Linked DNA regions of Homo sapiens: all the other regions are linked to region 1. A link means that fine-mapping ties the variant in region 1 to the expression of a gene that starts in the linked region. Tissue or cell type: whole blood. Region 1 holds a variant in brackets; each other region holds the start of a gene. All regions are shown on one strand. Distances are between the middles of the regions.

Evidence for each region. PIP is the estimated chance that this variant, and not a neighbour inherited with it, causes the effect.
Region 2: MAP3K9 starts here. The variant in region 1 is fine-mapped to the expression of MAP3K9 in whole blood (TOPMed, PIP above 0.99).
Region 3: MED6 starts here. The variant in region 1 is fine-mapped to the expression of MED6 in whole blood (TOPMed, PIP above 0.99).

What each region holds. Positions count from the first base shown.
Region 1 is chr14:70,653,036-70,658,284 of GRCh38, reverse strand. All of the region lies in intron 1 of TTC9 (tetratricopeptide repeat domain 9), which reads right to left. Among named protein-coding and RNA genes, the nearest start is that of TTC9, 14 kb to the right of the region's middle. RefSeq lists enhancers at 3,545-3,604, 4,178-4,764 and a silencer at 3,665-3,804. The variant C/T (reference allele first, on the strand shown) is at 2,574.
Region 2 is chr14:70,807,683-70,812,306 of GRCh38, reverse strand. MAP3K9 (mitogen-activated protein kinase kinase kinase 9) reads left to right here and starts at 2,794. Exons shown (of 12, transcript NM_001284230.2): 1 at 2,794-3,541. The coding sequence starts at 3,136. It overlaps MAP3K9-DT (MAP3K9 divergent transcript), which reads right to left and starts at 3,523. Exons shown (of 2, transcript NR_184164.1): 1 at 3,020-3,523. RefSeq lists a silencer at 2,593-3,232 and an enhancer at 4,173-4,232.
Region 3 is chr14:70,598,518-70,603,141 of GRCh38, reverse strand. It overlaps MED6 (mediator complex subunit 6), which reads left to right and starts at 2,487. Exons shown (of 8, transcript NM_005466.4): 1 at 2,487-2,526. The coding sequence starts at 2,505. RefSeq lists an enhancer at 1,786-2,985.

The DNA of each region.
Region 1 (5,249 bases):
ATATATACGGTGTTTTACAACTCATTTAACTTTCATGGAGACTCCGGGAAATAGCTATTATTAGCTCTGCTTCCAGGAGCTGAGGCTTGGGGAAGTTAAGTGACCCGCTGAGCCCACTTAGCTCTTATGGGGAAAGAGCTAGTGTTTACTTAACCCCAAATCCCATATTGGTTCCAATCCAACAGAGCTGGTGGTAATGGTGGAAACCCGGACTGGCTGATCTCTGAAGGTCTTTATCAAGTCTGAGGACTGAGAACTCTGGCTCAGAGAGTTAGCACCCTCCAAGTGGCTGTTTCTTTGTTTGTTTGTTTGTTTGTTTGAGATGGAGTCTCGCTCTGTCGCCCAAGCTGGAGTGCAGTGGCACTATCTCAGCTCACTGCAACCTCTGCCTCCTGGGTTCAAGCAATTCTCCTGCCTCAGCCTCCCAAGTAGCTGGGATTACAGGTGCCTGCCACCAGGTCTGGCTAATTTTTGTATTTTTAGTAGAGATGGGGTTTCACCATGTTACCCAGGCTGGTCTTGAACTCCTGACCTCAGGTGATCTGCCCGCCTCGGCCTCCCAAAGCACTGGGATTACAGGTGTGAGCCACCGTGTCTGGCCCACAAGTAGCCGTTTCTTTGTTCACTCCAATACCTATTTCTCCTGCCTGCTGCCCAGAGAGTCTCCCACTACTGCTGCTGCTATTTCTACTGCCAGGAGCTGTTTGGCTTTATCTAGGGGGCTAAATCTCCTTTGATTCCATTCACATTAATTTCTGACCTTCCACTTTTCCATTCTAGTATGTGCTTGCACTAGATTCAAACAAACACTGTCAAGTGTGTCTTTTGTTTTCTTTGTTTTAGCAACACTGTCTTTGGAGATCTCTCCTTTTCATCATAACCAAGCTGCTCCCTTGAATCCCTCTGATTCTTCACATGGATGCCCCACCTTTGGGATCACTACCAGAGCTGCTGCTTCCCACGCATCATCACTACACAATTTCGGGTAGGCACTCTTAGTAAACTTAGTCAATAAGGATTCACTCATCGTGGCCTGTGCCCAGGGCTTCATAAGGAATATGGAAAGCATTCAAGAGATATTGATATCTTCAAGGAGTTTATATTCTTTTTAATTACCCTCTGTTGGCAAAAATAGCTGTCAAAGTGGCAGGTAAAAGAACTGCATGGAAAGTCAGTATAAAATCCTGTAAGCTGAAAGCTTACATTGACAGTCCTTTAAAGCATATAGGAATCTGCCCAAGGGAGTTGTAATGCCAAAGCTTAAGGTCAGCTCAGCCCTTTGGCACCAATCTGGGTGCTATGGCAGAACACTTAGAAGTTATCCCACCTATGGCCCCTTACTCTCACCCTTGACTTTGGTGTAGTAGACAGAGAGGGAGAAGGCAGTAGTGAAAAGTTGGTAGGACAGAGCTGTTGTTTGCTGGAATCTTCATTAACACCCCTTCCTCAGTCTGGAAGCGGGACTTTGGAGTGGCCAGATTGGCCATTTGGAATGTGAAGATGAGTGTATTCCCAGAAATATTCAGAAGAAACCCATCGCCCCATATTATCTTTTCCTTCTCAGCTCTGGCCAAGTACACACGTCACGTTCATTGGCAGAAACTCTAAGCCAGAATGGGAAGACCTTAGAAGCCAGAGTTCTATCCTGTTCTCTTTTTGGACATTAAAGAACGTCTCCCATTTCAATCCCCTCTCCTGCCCCAGAGACATGTTCCCTGTTCCTATTGCCTCTCCCACCATCTTTCCCTCATGTCCTCAGATGTGTTTGGGGATAGGATAATTAACAGGCACATGTATAGCGGAAAGAGCACGTCTTTGGCAGCATTGTGCTGTAATCACAGAATGCTGGAAATAACCTAAGTATCCATCAGTAGATTAGTTAAATAAATAATGGGACATTGGTGCAATGGAACATTACACAGCCATTACAATCATGCTGTGGAACGGTGAAAAATATTTTCAATGAAAACACTGGTGGAAAAACATGAAGGTTGCTAAAGTTTGTACAGTATAAACCTGAATGTTGTGAAAAATAAATGTGTGTGTGTGTGTGTGTGTGTGTGTGTGTGTGTGTATCAGGGTGAAGAATTATTTTTTCTTTTAAAAGTTCTGCTCCTTCTGTATGGGTGAAGAATTTGTAATATCTATAGCAGAGTTTAAAGGAATAAATTATCTTTTTGGAGGAGACTGGCTTCATCAACTGCTTCAGGTGGGGAAGGTGAAGCTTAGAGGTCAGTAGCAGGCACACACGTAGATGAAAAGATGCCCAGACTGCTTTGTATATGAAATGAAGGGAATCTGAGAGTGGGGAAACCTAAGAAGCTGAGAGGAGCTGGCGGGGAGAAAGAGTCCAAGCAGCATGGCGGGGAGCTGGAACCTGCCAAAAAATGTGAGTGGTCCATTTGAAATTCCTGGTGGTCTGATGGCCAAATGAGTTTTAGGAGGAAGAATTTCTACTATTCAATTTTTGAGATGTAAACTCCTTCTGCATCTCATAACCTTCAGTAAAGTCTAGTGAAATTATACATCTGGGTGTAGTGGTGCTGTGGAATGTGAAAAGGAAGTAGCAGCAA[C/T]AGGAAGTCGAGTGGCCCCTTGGTTGTCATGCAAACAGAGTGAGCAGCATCCTGTGGGAGGGGAGGGGAGAAAAGACAGGAGGTCCCTGCAGTGGCCCCAGCCCACGTGAGAACAACCCCTTGTTTCCTAAATACACTGGGAAAGGTAGACCTGAAGGGGGTTGGCTGATGTTTGTTTTACATATAAATGATCATACACCCACACGGAAGAAAAACGGCAAGGAAATAAACCAAAACGGTTAACTGTTGTCATCTTGGGGTGGTAAATGACAGAGTTTTACCTTCTTCTTTGTTTTTTTTTTTTTGTTTCTTGAGATGGAGTCTCGCTCTGTCGCCCAAGCGACGCTTGGAGAGCAGTGGCGCGATCTCGGCTCACTGCAACCTCCGCCTCCCAGGTTCAGGCGAGTCTCCTGCCTCAGCCTCCCGAGTAGCTAGGACTACAGGTGCACGCCACTGCGCCTGGCTAATTTTTGTATTTTTAGTAGAGACAGGGTTTCCCCATGTTGGCCAGGCTGTTCTCAAACACCCAACCTCAGGTGATCCACCCACCTCGGCCTCCCAAAGTGCTGGGATTACAGGCGGGAGCCACTGAGCCTGGGCTGCTTCTTTGTAATTTCTTATATTTTCAATGCTAAATTAAATTTAGCCTAAAGCTGCCTCCTTACATAGTCTAAGTTTGGCCTAAAGGTTTCTTTGTACATAAGGAACCATAGTAAACTGAAAACTAGCTGGATGTGTAAACAGTCTGCAACCTACTCTTATGCCAATCAACTGAGTTTTAGCCAATCAAAGGCAACCAAGTGTTCAAACTGAGTTCAAATAAGGCAAATGCAGAGCTGTTAAGTATCAGCTGTTTCTGTACCTCGCTTCCATTTTTTTGTACGGTGGCTTTCCTTTTTCTGTTTCGTAAATCTTCTTCCACCATGTGGCTGCACTGAAGTCTCTCTGAGCCTATTCGGGCTTGGGAGGCTGCCCGATTCACGAGTCATTCTTTGCTCAATTAAACTCTGCTAAATTTAATTTGTCTGAGGTTTTTCTTTTAGTATCAATAACTTCTGCAACTATGATGCTTTACTTTTGTAATTAGAATTTTTTTTTTTTTTTTTTTTTTTTTTTTTTTTTTTGAGACAGAGCCTTACTGTTGCCCAGGCTGGAGTGCAGTAGTGCAATCTCGGCTCACTGCAACCTCCGCCCCCAGGTTCAAGCAACTCTTCTGCCTCAGCCTCCTGAGTAGCTGGGACTACAAGCATATACCGCCACGCCCGGCTAATTTTTGTATTTTTAGTAGAGACAGGGTTTCACCATGTTGGCCAGGCTGGTCTCAAACTCCTGACCTCAGGTGGTTCACCCACTTTGGCCTCCCAAACTGCTGGGATTACAGGCATAAGCCACCACTCCCGGGCAGAAACTATTTTTAAAAAGTCACCACTAACCATTATCATCCCTTCAGAGAGAGCTGGGGGATGAGGGGAAGAGGAACTTGGGAGGAGAGGTGTGAAAAGGGATTCAGAAGGGTTTCCTAGGCAGAAAGCACTGCCTCTTCATGGGGCACTGTTCTGGGGATGCTTAGGGTCATGAGGGACCCTGGGTGTTTTGGTGGAGGAGCAGCTGTGAGCGGATCCAAGGGACACACCTGCTAGTGCTCTCACTCCCAAGATGCCTGATTAAGCCAAGGACTTTCTTCATCCTACCCCAATAAGGAAGCTCAGTAAGCTGGCATCTGCCTGATGCACAAGAGGGTGGGTGGGGCAGTCCCGAGGCTGCCAGCCCCATGGCTTCTCTGTCGGATGTCTCCTTCTATGAGCCTCTGCCATCCTCTGTTTCTCTTCCCACCAGAAAGCCTTCTTTCTTGTTAAGCTCCCCTGGGGACTCAAATGATCACAGCATGTATCTTCTCTTCCCAGCAGGCAAATCCTTATTTTCCGCTGTCAGATTCTCAACTGGTCTGACTTGTGAGAGTGCCTGAAGTTCTTTCCCTGCTTTTCATTTCAAAGACAGGGTCAGGGGGAATCCTGGGGCAAAGTGTGAAAAGTGGCAGGGAACAGGCACTGTCTAACTGAGCCTTATTCATTTGGAGAATCTCAGGCTGGAGATGATGTGTGCCTAGAACCCACAGTTTCTAAGTGTTTCTTAGACTGACCCAAATCCTGAGAAGCTGGAAGGGGCATAGACCCCTGACCCATGGGCTCTTGGTCATGGTGGAACTCTGTGGTCTTTCAACTAACTGATGAGTTATATGTTCACTCAGCCTCCCTTGACCAGGAATACACCAGGCATGGTGGTAGACAATGTCCACACCAAAGGCTGTTGGCTTATACCTTCTCACCTCTCCTGTCTTGCAGACACTTAGGGAGATGGCACTCTTTCCCCTGGCCCCTGTTTTGTCCTCACCTTTTTGCTCACTTGCTTCCCGTGTTTCCCCATAGCCTTCTTTGCTGCATTCTTTCCCTCTCTCTTTCCCTATATTTTCCTCTGTCTTCATGCATACTGGAGTAGGAGTTAGATTCAAATATTAACTAGCATCTGTTAAGCATCTGTTATGAGCCAGGCACTGTGCTAGGCATGTGTGCATGTATCATTAATTTAATCACCATAACAATCCTATGTGGTACATTATTATTACTCACATGCTGTCATGGAAACAGAAGCCACAGTGGTTGGGTCCTGTCCAAGGTT
Region 2 (4,624 bases), 150 kb before region 1:
GCAACCCTGCCAGACAAGTTTAGTCTGAAAGATCTACCCTCATTTGAATTCCTAGCACTTACCCATTCAACAAATATTAACTGAATGACTTGTTGAAATGTTTGATGAATGATTCTTTATGAGATTCTAAACACATGCTATGGTATTAAAGGTTTAAGTTGCACAGGGAATTAGTTTTCCTATTGAGAAGAATCAATGATTTTTCTCCTCTCTTCCCCTCTTCCCAGGGAGTGGGAAGGAATCCACAAAACTAAATAGTAGAACATACGAAATTATGGAGAAGCAAAATGACAATAAACTTACCCAATTACTCATAATCCGACTACTTAGAGACCCACTACTGACATTTTTCTCTTTTTAGTACTTTTTTTCCTGTTTCTGTTTTGCTGTGTGTCTACAGTTTGTAAAACTTTTTTTCCCTCAAGTTAAAAAAAATTCTTTTTTTTGAGACAGGGTCTTGCTTTGTCACCAGATTGGAATGTGGTATAGCAAACACTGTTCACTACAGCCTTGACCTCCTAGGTTCAAGCAATCTTCCTGCCTCAGCCTCTCAAACAGCTGGGACTACAGGCTTGCACCACCATGCCTGGCAAATTTTAACATTTTTTGTAGAGATAGGGGTCTCGCCATGTTGCTCAGGCTGGTCTCCTTCCTGGGCTCAAGTGATCCTCCTGCCTCAGCCTCCCAAACTGCTGAGATTTCAGGCACGAGCCACCATACCCAGTCCTAAGTTAAAATTTTATCAAGACAATTATTTTCTTATGGCCTTTAAAAAAACACAATATACCTCCATCCCCACTCCCTTGCTCTCTGCTGCTTGACAGTGGAATGGTTTTGTCTAAAACAAAACCTAGATAATTTACTCAGACTCATCCATATCTTTTCCAGTTCATGGATCCTATGTATAATAGGAATCTGAGCATTGTTTTAGGTCTTTACTTAAACAGAAATCCTTTTTCAAGACCTACTCTGGATGCTTTTTAGAACAAGCCTCATCTCTCTTCTTCAAGACCTCAAATGTGTGCTATGACTATACAGTGTAGTCATATTGATGAGCGAACCACAGAATGTTCAAACTATGAGGACACAGGATATCTTCCAGTTCACTCCCCTCACTTTAAGAGTACAGTGTTAGGACACCTGCCTGAAGTCATGCAGCTGCCTAGTTATCTTTCCAAATTGCCCCGCTGTCTTTAGTTTGTGTAATAATAAACCCCAAACTAAAATTCAACAAAAGCACTCACCCTTGCTAAATAAATCATGTCTATTCCTACCACTGAAGGGGAAAAGGTAACAAAGTTTGGTAGAAGTTGGGCTAGATCCTTCAGCACTGGCTTATTTAGAAATTTCAGAGGACTAGGTGAGGTGGCTAAGGCCTGTAATCCTAGCACTTTGGGAGGCCGAGGCAGGTGGATGACTTCAGCCCAGAGTTCAAGACGAGCCTGTACTTCCAGCTACTCGGGAGGGTGAGGTGGGAGGATGGCTTGAGCCTAGGATGTTGAGGCTGCAGTGAGCCGAGATTGCGCCACTGCACTCTGGCCTGGACAACAAACTGAGACCCTGGAAGAAAAGAAAAGAAAAGAAAGGAAAAGAAAAGAAAAGAAAAGAAAAGAGAAAAAAAGATCAGAGAACCTTTCTTACTGGAAGTCAACGTTGCCACGACAGGATTAAAGCAAGAAGAAACATTATGGGCCTCCTATCTCGTCCTTAATGTTCAAAACGCAGGGTATAGCAAAGCATATAGGAAGAGGTCGTCCTCACTCGTGAACTCAGCATCGGGTTCTACGTTTATTCTGCTTTGGTTCTTCTTAATCTGACCTCTATAGACTTCGCCACGATCCAAGGTGTAATTCCAACAGGCAAAAGAAGTCTAAGGATTGTCGAAAAGGTGGCTCCCTTCAGACAGACCAAGCCCAATTCATGGCAGCGTTCCCAGCCCCAGTTTGAAGCTCAGTAAGGTGGTCTCTTGCCTTTCTGAATTCTGAAAAAAGAGTGGTATTGGAATCTCTTCTTACCGGAACCCAGGAGAGGGCGAGCTGTGGTGCAGTCCTCATAAAGGGGAGAACTGTAGTTTTCAGAGTTCTAATGAACATCCCAATGGGCCTAAAAGGCTTCAATAAGAGATGAAAGGTTCCGGGTGAGAGTGGGCGTGGGCGAAGCTGATCCCTCTAGGTCGGACTAAGGCAGAGCCAGATCCAAGAGGGAGAATCCAACTGTAAAAGGGATCTGGGGAAGAAAGAGCTCTGTTGGGGGTGCAGCCGGATGAAGAACACCGGTGCTGCTCAGTGCAGCCCCTACCCATCCATGGCAAACAAAGGCAGCTGCCTCCCTTCCAGCCTTTTAGTTTGAATGAAGGCTCAGTATTACCTTTTAGGATCCACCCTTCCCTTCTCACGCACCCAATGAGGCCGGAGCCTCTTCCTGCCGGGAGGTGCTGAACTCTCCCAGGAAACGGACAGGTGCCGCGAGCCAATGGAGGGAGCTGCGGCGGGCCAGTGGGCGGGAAGAGTGGGTCGACCTGGGTTTGAGAATGACAGAGCCCGCAATGGGGGAGGGCACGGTGCGACGGCGGCGCAGGGGGTGAGAGGGACCTGCGAGACGGCCAGCTAGGCTGCCCCAACCACGGCGGAGGAACCGGGGACTGGGCGGCCGCAGCCAATGGGAAGGCAGCGGGCGCGGGGCGGGGCGGGCGTGGGGCGGAGCCCCCTGGGGTCCGCAGGGCTGGGGCGGAGCCAGGCCCGCGTCAGGTGGTCCCGGCGAGCTGGCGGTGCGGGGGGCGGGGCACGGCACGGCGCGGAGAGGAGAGCGGCGGCCGGCTGGCAGCGGCGGGCACCGGCTGCGCGAGCAGGTACCGGCGGCAGAGGTGACGAGGCCGCCCCCGGGGGGGCGAGCGGGCAGGCGGGGACTCGGCCCGCTGCGCCCCTAGGCTGCGCGAAGAGCTCGCGCTCGGCGCTCTTCTCGTACCGCGGTAACAGCGCCGGCGAGCCGGCTCTCCCAGCCCTGCCAGCCCGGGCCCTACCTGCGGCCGCCGTCGTTGGGGGGGGGTCCTCCCAGCTCTGCGGAGGCGCATGAACAATAGGCGGCGGCGGCTCCTGCGGGCGGCGGCGGCCCCGCACCCTATGGATCGGCCGCTCCATGGAGCCCTCCAGAGCGCTTCTCGGCTGCCTAGCGAGCGCCGCCGCTGCCGCCCCGCCGGGGGAGGATGGAGCAGGGGCCGGGGCCGAGGAGGAGGAGGAGGAGGAGGAGGAGGCGGCGGCGGCGGTGGGCCCCGGGGAGCTGGGCTGCGACGCGCCGCTGCCCTACTGGACGGCCGTGTTCGAGTACGAGGCGGCGGGCGAGGACGAGCTGACCCTGCGGCTGGGCGACGTGGTGGAGGTGCTGTCCAAGGACTCGCAGGTGTCCGGCGACGAGGGCTGGTGGACCGGGCAGCTGAACCAGCGGGTGGGCATCTTCCCCAGCAACTACGTGACCCCGCGCAGCGCCTTCTCCAGCCGCTGCCAGCCCGGCGGCGAGGACCCCAGTTGCTACCCGCCCATTCAGTGTAAGGCGAAGGCGGGGCCGGGCGGGGAGGGGGAATGACGGAGGCCTGGGGGGCGGTCGGGGAAGGGGGGAGCACTGCGCGAGGGCTGGGATGAGGGCGGGGGGTGGGGAGGACGATTGACCTGGGTGTGGGTGGCGCGCGCTTAGGCTGCCCGGGCTTTGCTTGCTGGATAAGCTCGAGACGCCTCAGGCCCTGCCCGCACTTCAGACGCTTGGGCTTCTTCACCTTCAGTTGGCCACCTCAGCAGTGGCTCCCGATTTCCACATCCTGAAGTCCCAGTCTGAGAATTTGCCAGTTTCCCAGTCCCTTCTCTTACCCACCCCCCCGCCGCCCCCCATTCCCAATCTGGAAGTGTTTATGGCAAGATGGTGGTTAGTGTCCTAGCCTTAGTCCCCAAATCAGGGACCTTGCCACCACCTCTTCTAACGCCTGTCCCCGCCTCCTAAAGGCATTTGCTTTCAAAGAGATGGGGGTGTCTCCGCAGGGCTGAGCTGGCTCACAAGTCCCGGAAGCATGTGTGAACTCAAGGCTCAGTTGCCTGTAAAATGTCGGGTTGATTTCTTGGATCCTATTTCTTATATCTCAGAAGTTGTACCTTTAGGAGTCTCACTGATTAATGTGCTAAGAGGGATGTGTGTGTTGAGAGTGGGGGTGAGACAAGTGATGATTAGAGAGGAAAAAGTATGTCGTTCCCCCATGGGAGATCAGGATTGCAAGGTACAGTGGCTGAATCCCAGTCCTTTGACAGTGAGGCTGTTTGGGAAATACATTTTCTTCTTTCTTCTCATTCTAGATCCTTGCCTATCTTTGGAACTGGTCAAATCTCAGGGGGACCATGCTCAGGGGTCCCTCCCAGGGCCTTTCTCCCAGTGTCCTGGTTTCCGTCAATTTTCCAGGAGCCCCATATTTCATACCCTATAATGAAATCTTCTTTTTTTTTCAAGGGAGTTAAATTGCCATCACAATCCCTTAATCATACTAGTTTATTTCAGAAAAAAACATGTAAATATCTCTTTAGTGCAGTTTACACTATTTTGTATTTGAGAGTTTCCATAATCTCTTATCTGTTAAAAAGGTATTGTT
Region 3 (4,624 bases), 55 kb after region 1:
CCAACTCCCCATCACCACCACTTTCAATCCATGACCTTAGGTTTCTCTGGCATCTAGCTGGTGAATACAGAGAGAGAAAGTGAAGATGGAACCAGTGTTTTTCACTGTCTTGGCCTGGAGGTAACACTTATCACTTCCATTCACAGTCCCTTGATGAGAACTGGCTATGTAGCTCCATCCAGGTGCAAGGGTGGTGGAAAATATAGCTTAGCTGTATACCCAAGTAGATAATAAGTTTGGTGAAAAGCTAGCTCATCTGCCTCAGTCCGTCTCCTCATTTAAAAATGGGAGTAATAGCTTCTGCCTCATAAAATTGTTTTGAGGGAACAACTAGATAGTTCGTCAAAGTGCTTAGCACAGTGCCTCGTCCATAGTAAGTGGCTCAATAAGCACAACAAATACTTTTGACATCCATAAACAAATTTCCAGTCAGAACCTTTGTGGCATTCTACTCATTCAAATCTTTTAATAGCTTCCTATGTTCTTTGAATAAAAAATAAATTATTGACCAGGCTCTCTATCATCTGGCCCCTGCCTTCATTCCCAGTCTCTTTTCCCATCATTCATCCTTCACTCATACAACCCGGCTTACACTGGCCTTTCTGTGGTTCTCAGACCAACCCCTTTCCCACTGTAGGGTCCATGGTCCCCTCTGTCTGATATGCTTGTGCCCCAGCTCTTCACATGAGTGATTTGCTTTCATCTTCCAGGTCTCATCTCAGGTATCACTTCCTCAGAGAGGCCTGTCCTGACTGTCCTACCCAAAGTGGCTTCCTCCCTATCTTGTCTTCTCTTGTTTTTGTTACCACACTTTTTAATTTATATTTCTTTATTAACTGAAACAATTAATATAAAAGAAATAGAGATGGGATCTCGCTATCTTGACCAGGCTGGTCTCCAGCTCCTGGGCTCAAGCAATCCTCCCATCTTGGCCTCCCAAAGTGCTGGGATTACAGGCGTGAGCCACCTTGCCCTGTCTTCCTCAAGTTATCTTTCTAAAATGGAAGCTTGATCACATTTCTCCCATTGCCTACAAAATAAAGGTTGAGCTTCCAGGTCTTATTTACCATGCATACCATATGTTTTATTATCTACAGATCTGCATTCTGTCACTATTCTTCCTAATCTCCTTCTAGCCTAATCAAAACACAAGGAAACAAAAAACTAGAAAAACAAAACAAAAAGCTTTATGGATCACACTTTTTATTGGACACGATACTCTTCCTTTTTGCAATGTCCTCCCACTAGGCTCCCAACCAGGCCCTCCTGAAAAATTCTCTCTCAAAACTTTACTCTGTGCATGCACATACTTCTGTTGGGACACCTATTTTATACATACCATCTCAGGCAGAAAATTCCCAAACTGAAATGTACAGGCAACGTACTTTTATTCTACGGAGTTAACAAATTTTTAATTCCTTGTCTATGAGGTTGAAAATCCCAATTAAATTTCTGGTCTTCCCCTCTTGCTCCTGGGTTGTGGTTAAATTCTTGGGGAGTCTTCACAGTACCTAAGTTTTGGAGAAGATGTAGGCACCCGCCCTCATCCCTCCTTCAGATTTTGGCATCCTCTTCCTAGTATCTGTGTGTTGTTTGCATATTTCTGTATCGTTTTGCTTTTACAGAGCCACACTGAAGCTTGAGAATCTGAGGCTTTCTGTAGCTTCCCCGTACACAGAATCATTCCCTCTTTGGAGCCTTGCTACCTACTCCAGACTACTTGGAATGCAGACATTTGCTCATTACTCTGGGACCCAGGGGTATTCCCTTTCTCTTAATCTTATTAATATTTCACTTCAGAAGCATTTCCTGTGTTGTGAAATTTTTCTCAGAGGCTTCTTTAATTGGTTTAGATTTTTAATGGATTTAGTCACATAAAAGCCAATGACTCCCAAATTCTTAAGTCCTGTCCCATCCCAATACCTGAGGCAGGGAGAAAAATATAAATGACCATCGTTCCTAAATCTGATAGCTCAGTGGATACACCCGGGGAGCTTTTAAAATTAAGAGACACTCCCAAGCACAACTCTACAGCATCAGAATTTGTTTTCTTGACGATCACAGACGATCAAGGCAGAATTCTTCCATCAGTGGTGGGCGTGGGGCGGGACTCCACTCGGTCTTTCTGTCCTCTAAGTCTTCTAATTTTTTTCCCAGTAATCCGCCCTCCCGTTCTCCTTCTTTGGCCCATCCCTCTTCTAGTCTTTCCCTGCTCCCCTGCACCAATCTTTCTGCGTCCCGTCCCCTCCCATTCCCCTACCCCACCCCACCCCACCCCACCCCACGTTTCCCGCCTCCCGCGCCTCTCCCGCTTTCCGCCCCCTCGCGTCTCCTCCCCTCCCACCCGCACCTCCACCCCCTGCCTCTCTCCTGCCCGCCCCGCCCCCTCTTCCGCTCTACGTCCCTCCTCACCCATGCGCACTCTCTTCAACCCGCTGCTTCCGGCGGCCTAGGCTTACGTTTACTTTGCGCCGGAAAGAGAACCTGTAAACGCTCTCGGAATTATGGCGGCGGTGGATATCCGAGGTATACTGTATTGCTATATTTTGTCTCTTGATTGTCTGTGGACCAGTTTGGGATGTTATAGCTCGCGGTTTCAAGGTTTAGGTTCCTTTGTGTGAAGTCTCAAGCTTTTTTGAGTGGTTTTTGTGGACAACCCAAGGCTGTGATCTAGCGAAACGTTGACGAGTTTTTTTTTTTTTCTGAGTTCTTGGAGCGTCTCTTGGAAGCGTCGGAGAGAAGGGGTTGGAAGAAGCTCTGGGTTTTGAGCTTTCAGAGCTGGAGTTTTGTTCTACACACGTATCTCTGCAACAACATTAGGGCTATTCTATTGGAGTGAAGGAATGGCGTTTAGGCAGAGAAGGGAATGGGGTAATAAGCCAACTTGATTTGATTCATCTCTTGGGACTTGGCATGGTGGCTGCCTAATTCTTTAGACCGCGCCACACGGGTCCCTGAGCATGAATCCCAGATATTTTCTTTTTTTTTGAGTCGATAATACTTTACATCGAACGTCCAGCAATTATTATGGGCAGGGGTCGTATTTTTTTCACAGCTGAACTGCAGAAGTACTCAAATATTGAATCAGTCAGTGAATAAATGTATGGAGATGTCACCCCTTAACTGCTGCTTGATCTTGGGGAGCATGTAGAGTTGTTTTTGTGTATATAGTACTTGATTTTTAAAGGGAGATGTTTGAGATGCCTTTTTTTAATATTAACTGGATTGGGGTCTAACACATTTATTACAAATATTCTCATTTATACTTATCTGGCGATCTGCAGCACTTCTGGATCATGATTTTACATACGTGTCTTTCATTATTTATTTCATCACTTGCTGATGGTTAGAATGCTGTTAGAATGCTTGGGCTATGTCAACATGTTGCCTTGCTACAGAATAAAAAAGAGAAATATTTAGTTTATAAAATGTTTTACTTATAATTCAGATTGTTAGGATCATGGCAAAGACTCTAAAATAAGAGTGTGTTTGGTGTGTTAAAGGAACAGCAAGGAGGTCAGTGTGGCTGGAGGGTAGTGAGAGAGGATGTGGGAAGGAGATGAAGTCAGAAAGGTGTTGAAAGCTATGATAAGGTCTTTGGCTTTTCCTCTGAGTAAAACGCAGAGCCATTGGAGGGGTTTCCATCAGAGGAATGATGTGATCTGACTTTTTTTTAGGACTACATTGGCTGCTGGGAACAGTGTAGGAGGGCAAGGGTAGAATTAGGAAAACCAGTTAGGAGGCCATTTCTGAAAATGTTATTTCCTGGCCTGTTGTGTATTTGGTTATTGCATGATCCAGTTATGATGAACTATCTAAATGGTCTATACTAATTATTTGGTTATTAACGCACTTCATCTGTCTCCTCCTTTATTTTATAGCACACAAAGTACATTTTACCTTTATATAATTTTTCTCGGTTGAGTCACTTGGCTCAAAACTGCCTGTCACCTTGAATTAGGTCTGACTTCTTTGAAGATGCCTGAGGTAATGACAGTATAAGAGAGATTGAAGTTTTTCAACCAGTATTGTATAGGCATTTTGATGTTCATGATTTACACCTAGTGGTGTTCAGTACAGTCAGTGGTATGAAGCATCATGAAAGCCAATAGCCAATACAAGCTCATTTATTAAAAGTATCTAGCTCTATCATGTCTTTTTAAAAGCTATGATTTAATTCTACGCTAAATATGAAACCGTGTGGCTGTAGTTAAGGGAACTCTACTTCCTGTTTATCCCTTAGCTTTTACATCATTATCATCTCATCTACAATAATAGCTTCCTAACTTCTCTATCCCTAATTGAGAGATCTCAAACTGGTAGCTATAGATGTGTTCTCTTGGGCATACATGTTATTTGAAAATTTTGAATTCCTTGCCAGCATTAAGGATTTCCAATAAAAAAAAAAGTCCTTTCTAAATTTTAAATCTTATCACTTCTTCACCTAATGAAATTATTCTCTAAAGATATAATATACTTTATATTTTTACACCTCTGTATATACATTCTCTCTGCTTGGAATTACTTTGCCCTTTTCTCTGTGTAAGTTTTTATTTATTCTTTAACATACCGTGCTAAAACCCACCTTCTCTCCACATGAAAAATGATTTTCGTTTCCCCAGGT